2 separate regions of the Homo sapiens genome follow, and region 1 is linked to region 2. Evidence: fine-mapped expression QTL. Tissue or cell type: whole blood. Region 2 holds a variant in brackets; the other region holds the start of a gene. All regions are shown on one strand. Distances are from middle to middle.

Region 1 (2,757 bases), 110 kb after region 2:
TTTCTTGGCTTGTGGTCTGGAAAGTCTGGTTTAGTCCGCTCAGGTAGTTCTGTCCCTTTCTCCTCAGTTGCCTTTCTTTGCATCTCCTCTGGAACCTCTGGTTGAGTCTCTTCTGGAGGCTCTAGACCTGCCTCCTCACTAGACTTTCTTGGTTCCTTCTCCAGAAATTCCAGTCTAGCCTGCTCGGGTGGCTCTGTCCTTTTCTTCTCAGTTGACTCTCTTTGTGTCTCCTCTGGAGTCTCTGGTTTGGTCATCTTTGGTGGCTGAAGATCTGTCTCTTCAAGTGATTCTCCTAGTTTCTCACTTGGAAAATCTTGTTTGGTCTGCTCTGGAGGCTCTAGACCTGTCTCTTCATGTTGCACTCTAAGTGATTCCTCTGGAACCCCCGGTTCAGTCTCCTCCTCTAGTAATTCTAAATTTCTCTCTCTGACTGTGGCCCCCGAAACCTCAGACATGGTTTCCGTTGGTGGCACTGGATCTGGATCTGTTTCCATAGCTGACTCTAGGAACACATCCTCTGTAACATTTGGTTTAGCCTCCTCTGGTGGCTCTAGGTCTGACTCTTTATGCGTTTCATCCATAGGGGCCTCCAAATCTTTGAAAAACTCTCCCATCTCTCTGGATGTTTCCGACTTTACCTCTTGGTGTATCCCTGGTTCAGTTTCGCTTGGTACGTCTCTCTTGGACTCCTTGGCAATTCCTTCCTGGGACGTCCCGCCAGGTTTCAGCTGCACGTTCTTAGCACTGTCTGGCTCCCCCTCTTTGAAGTCCTCTTCCTCGGTCTCTGGCTGTGGCTCTTGGTAAATCTCTGCTGGTAGCTTCGAGTCTGCCTTTGCCATGGTGTCTGGTTCGGCATTTTCATACAATTTATGAAGTCCAGGCAGTTCAGGCCTCTCAGGCTCCAGCTCTCCATCTTCATCTGGGCCGGAATCATAATCCTCCGGGACTTCAGCCATTTGCAGCTTAGCAGACGCGCCGCGGCTTCCTAGCAACCCCAACTTCCGATAGCGTCTCTATGGATACCACGATTTCCGGCAGTGTCTTCCTGACTCTTCCCCAGGTTTTGTTTGTTCTTTCAAGCCCTGACTTTAAAAATCGTCTGTCACAAGCACGCAGTAACCCTCCCTGCGGCCTCATCGCCAGCCTCAGCGGGCCAGAGCTCCTGTGGCCGCCCCTGGGTCAGCTAGCTTTTCAAGCGGCCGCCGCGCCGCTTCTTCCGGCCTGCAGGCTGCGCTCGGCTGTGCTCGGCGCTCGCTCGGCCTTCGGCTGTTTCCGGAGCCACTCGCGGCTGGCAGCGGAGAGCTCCGTGCGCGGGCTGCAGATGTCTGACCTGCAGGCGGCTGAGGGGCCGGGCTCCTGGAGCCCCACAGCCCGCCCAGGGTCGGCTGGCGGCGTCGGGGACTGCCAGGGAGTGGAGGGGAGCCAGGCGGCCGCCTCAGGTACGCAAGGCCGGGGCGCTGGCGGGTGGGTGCCGCCCGGCCTCAGGGCCCCGCACCACGGCGCGAGCCTCCGCCGCGCTCTGTCCTGGGCTTCCCCGCGGAGCGGACCCACCTCGGCAGCCCCTTCGCGCGCGGGGCCCCTTCCCCGCCGCTGCCACCACCCGGGCCCTGGGCTCGAGGTTATTTTCTACTCACTCCTGTTTCGAAATGCCTTGATTCCTGCCCCGCTTCCTTTCTGAGATCTGCCCAAATGGTAGTGACAGGGTGGCTCTGCCCCTGGCGCCTCTTCAGCTTCAGTTTCAGCTTCAGCCGGGGTTCGGGTCCCACCTCCGTCTGCTAATCACATCTAGACTGCCGACCCGAACCCTACTGGCCTCGCCGCCCCCTGCTTCTGGCTCCCCACCCTATCCCCATCTCAGTCCCCTGCCCCAGCCTTACCACGCGCCTCTCGGCCCCCACCCGGGTTGGCAGCCTTGCCTTCCTCTGCCAGAAGCCCACTGCGCCCTAGCCTTCCTGCACATAGGCCCCCTGGCCTTGCTGCCATCCTCTCCATCGCTTAGAGTGGGAAAAATGAAAAGCAGAGTTGAAATAGGTAGTGTCTGGGGTCTTTTGCTTGAACACAGTAGCCAAAGCAAGAGCAGGAATTAAAAATTTGGCCTACCTCCCTCATTCTCAAGACCCTCATCCTCTTCTTGTCCAGGACGACGTCTCCATTTCTACTAACGCGAGTTCCTCCGTGTGTATTATTTCAGTGTCCAAAGACAAAAGAGTCCATCCATCACACTTTCTTCTTTCAGCCTCCTGAACACCACACACGATGCAACTGAAAGGATGCTCTTTTGAAATACGAAAGGGTAGAGGGGAGAGAACTTGTCTTATTTAAGTAGCAAATATAAATTAATTTTCTAGGTCTGAAATTAAAATAGACACCATAAAGTATAATGGTTGAGGCACTACTGTGGAGCCAGGGTGCCTGGATTGGAGTCTGAAACGTCAGTTTCCTCATCTGTAAAATGTGATTACTAAAAATATCTGCCTCATAGGATTATTGTGAGGATTACTTGAGCTGCTTTGTCTAAGGCATTTGGGGTATAGTCCATGGTACACACTATACTCGTCTCAACCATTGTGACAGTAAGGTCTCTTTTTGTTCAGTTGAACTTCCTGTGCCGCCAGAGGTGTTCTTGGATGTATGGCTTCCAACATGGTGCCTTTTTCTGTCTTCTACTCTGATCCCAAGTATCTTCCCTCTCATAATGCTGCCTTATTCAAACACACACACAACTCACCCAGCTCTTTCCCATGATTTTATATTCTT
Region 2 (2,757 bases):
TGGAACTGCTCTGTGAAGACAGAAGGTGGTGGCCCACAAGGGGTTACTGTCACCAGTGTCTGTCCACACGTGCATAGTGTGCACCAGTGCGCAGGTGTTGAGATCAGGCTGGGCTGAGCTGAATCCCAGTTCTCTTATTGTAACCTTTAAGACCTTACATAAGTCCCTACCCTCCCTGAGCCTCCATAGCCTCATCTTTAACATAAAGGTGATCACGCTCGCCCCTCAGGGTTGCTGGTGTTCATTTGTTTACGTGGCAGTGATTTATCGGGCTCCTATAATGTATCAGGCACTGTGCTCAGCACAGTATCCCACAGTGAACAAAGCAGACACAATTCCTGTCTGCACAGAACTTACCTTTGAGTTGGAAAAAGTGACAGATGGCATGGAAATTGCCTAGGAAGGCCTGGTGTGTAAGATGTGTCCAGAGGTTGGCTATGGGCTGGGCCTCTGGGTGCCCGGCCCTGATCCCCTCAGCCCTTCTGGGAGATGTACGTGGCTCACTTGAAGTGCCTGGAGAGCAAATCCTCCCTTCTAGCCCCAGAGCCTTTAACCAGGACTGGTGGAGTTGGCAGATAAATCCCCAGCTCTGTCCCTGCTCGAGGGGTATCGGAGGAGCCCAGGGGGATTGGCTGCAGGTGCCCATCATGGTTGCTGCTTGACTGCATCCTTGACTGCCGCCTCCCCTTCCCTGTCTCGCTCCCCTACCCTCTTCTGGCATCTCCTGGGGCCACCTCCCAGTGGAACCACCTACACTGGAACCCTTGTCTTGGGGTAGGCTTCAAGAGAACCCAAACTAAGATGAGACGTTCCCCACATCTCTTTCCACTCCCAGGAGTTCCGCAAGGGCTGACGTACAGAGAGGGAGACTCCCAAGAGCAGCTCCAGAGAGGAAAGGCGGCACGTGTGGCTGTGACACTTGGCCAGAACCTCTCTGGCCTTTGCCCACCCTATGGTCTGACTGGGCACCAGGGAGAGGAGTGGGTAGAGAGGTCTGGAAAGGAACATTTTGAGCACCTACTGGGTAGCAGGGCCTGGGCTAGGCTTAGTCCTGTTGTCATTCCCATTTTGCAGATGAAGAAGCTCACAGAGGCTTCTCTCCTGCTAGGGCCCCACAGGTTAGAAGCCAGGCTGCCAGCAGAACTCAGACCAGGCAGCCCAATCTACAGCATGCTTGCTTTTCTTTTCTTTTTATTATTTATTTATTTATTTATTTATTTATTTATTTATTTAAGATGGATTCTCACTCTGTTGCCCAGGCTGGAGTGCAATGATGCGATCTTGGCTCACTGCAACTTCTGCTGCCTCAGTTCAAGCGATTCTCCTGCCTCAGCCTCCCGAGTAGCTGGGACTACAGGCACCTGCCACCATGCCCAGCTAATTTTTTTTGTATTTTTAGTAGGGACAGGATTTCACCATGTTGGCCAGGCTGGTCTCAAACTCCCGACCTCAAGTGATCCACCCGCCTCAGCCTCCCAAAGTGCTAGGATTACAGGCGTGAGCCACCGTGCCTGGCCTAGAGCATGCTTTCTTAACTACAGCACTATTCACATGTGGGTTGGATGATTCTTGTGGGATGGCCTTGTGCACTGCAGGCTATGTGGCAGCATTCCTGGCCTGTGCCTACTA[G/C]ATACTAGTAGAAACCTCCTCTAGCTGTGACAATCACAAATTTCTCCAGGCAGTGCCACATGTCCCCAGATGAGAACCACTGCATAACCACTGTACCACCTGCCCAGGCAGGCCCAGCCACCACCAGGCTAGGGTATCCCAATCAGCCAAAAGGCTGCACAGCCCTGAACACCTGCTGCTCCGAGACTGCCTGTCTCTATGCCCCAGAGACTGCAGACAGTGGAGATGCTGAGCAAAGTCACAGGCACAGTTAGGGCTTTGGTGGAATTGTGGGTGGGAGCTGCTAGGAAGCCAGCACTTAGGGATGCTCCAGGCCTCCCTCATTGGTCAGTGAAGGGGCTGAGTTGTTCCATTACTCACCCTTCCACCTTCCACTCATCCACCCTGCTGTCTAGACTAGAGGGCTTTGACTCAGCAAGAGACTCCAGGCTGGGGCCGAGATGGGCCCACGGCTGCCCTGGGACCAGGCGTTTAGTGCAGGAGCCCTGGAGCCAGGTGTTTGGACACCGCAGAAGGGGAGGTCAAAGAGGGAGAGACAGAAGATTCTGAATCTGTTTCCAAACTTTCAAGAAAAAAAAGTAAGAGTGAGAAACTAGGCTGATTAAGCCCCTGATTTTTGAAGGGGATACAATACTATCACTTTATAGCTTGCAGGTTAAGAGAATGGGCTCTAGGCCCAGACTGCCTGGTTTAAATCCTGGCTTTATCGCTAAATGTCTGTGCAACCTCAGGCAGGTTACTTGCCCTCTCTGTGCCTTAGTTTCCACTGTAAGACAGGCATGACAATGAGGATGTAAGACAGGGAGGATGAAATGAGTGATGAAGTGTTTAGAATAGTGCCTGGTGTGCAGTAAATGCTGTGGAAATGTTTGATAAATAAAATTCTCACAGTCCTTGCAGGGAAGAATGATTATCTTCATTCTGCAGACGAGGATATTGTCAAGTTGAAGAAGTTAGTAAGAGGCAGAGATGGGATTTGAACCCAAGCTTATCTGACTCTCACAACCAGTGTTTGTCAGCCATACCATACTGCCCAGGTATGAGACGGGAGGGGTGGCAAGGGTGTGGCCTGAGTGAAGCAGGGTCCACAGGTGGCAGGTCCCGGAGACTCATAAGGCAGCTCTGGGA

What was found. PIP is the estimated chance that this variant, and not a neighbour inherited with it, causes the effect.
Region 1: TMED8 starts here. The variant in region 2 is fine-mapped to the expression of TMED8 in whole blood (INTERVAL, PIP above 0.99).

The regions. Positions count from the first base shown.
Region 1 is chr14:77,375,618-77,378,374 of GRCh38, reverse strand. It overlaps TMED8 (transmembrane p24 trafficking protein family member 8), which reads left to right and starts at 1,281. Exons shown (of 6, transcript NM_213601.3): 1 at 1,281-1,439. The coding sequence starts at 1,322. SAMD15 (sterile alpha motif domain containing 15) reads right to left here and starts at 996. Exons shown (of 3, transcript NM_001010860.4): 1 at 1-996. The coding sequence starts at 956. RefSeq lists an enhancer at 1,014-1,223 and a silencer at 1,274-1,703.
Region 2 is chr14:77,485,720-77,488,476 of GRCh38, reverse strand. The region is part of intron 1 of ISM2 (isthmin 2); the gene reads left to right. Among named protein-coding and RNA genes, the nearest start is that of ISM2, 12 kb to the left of the region's middle. The variant G/C (reference allele first, on the strand shown) is at 1,630.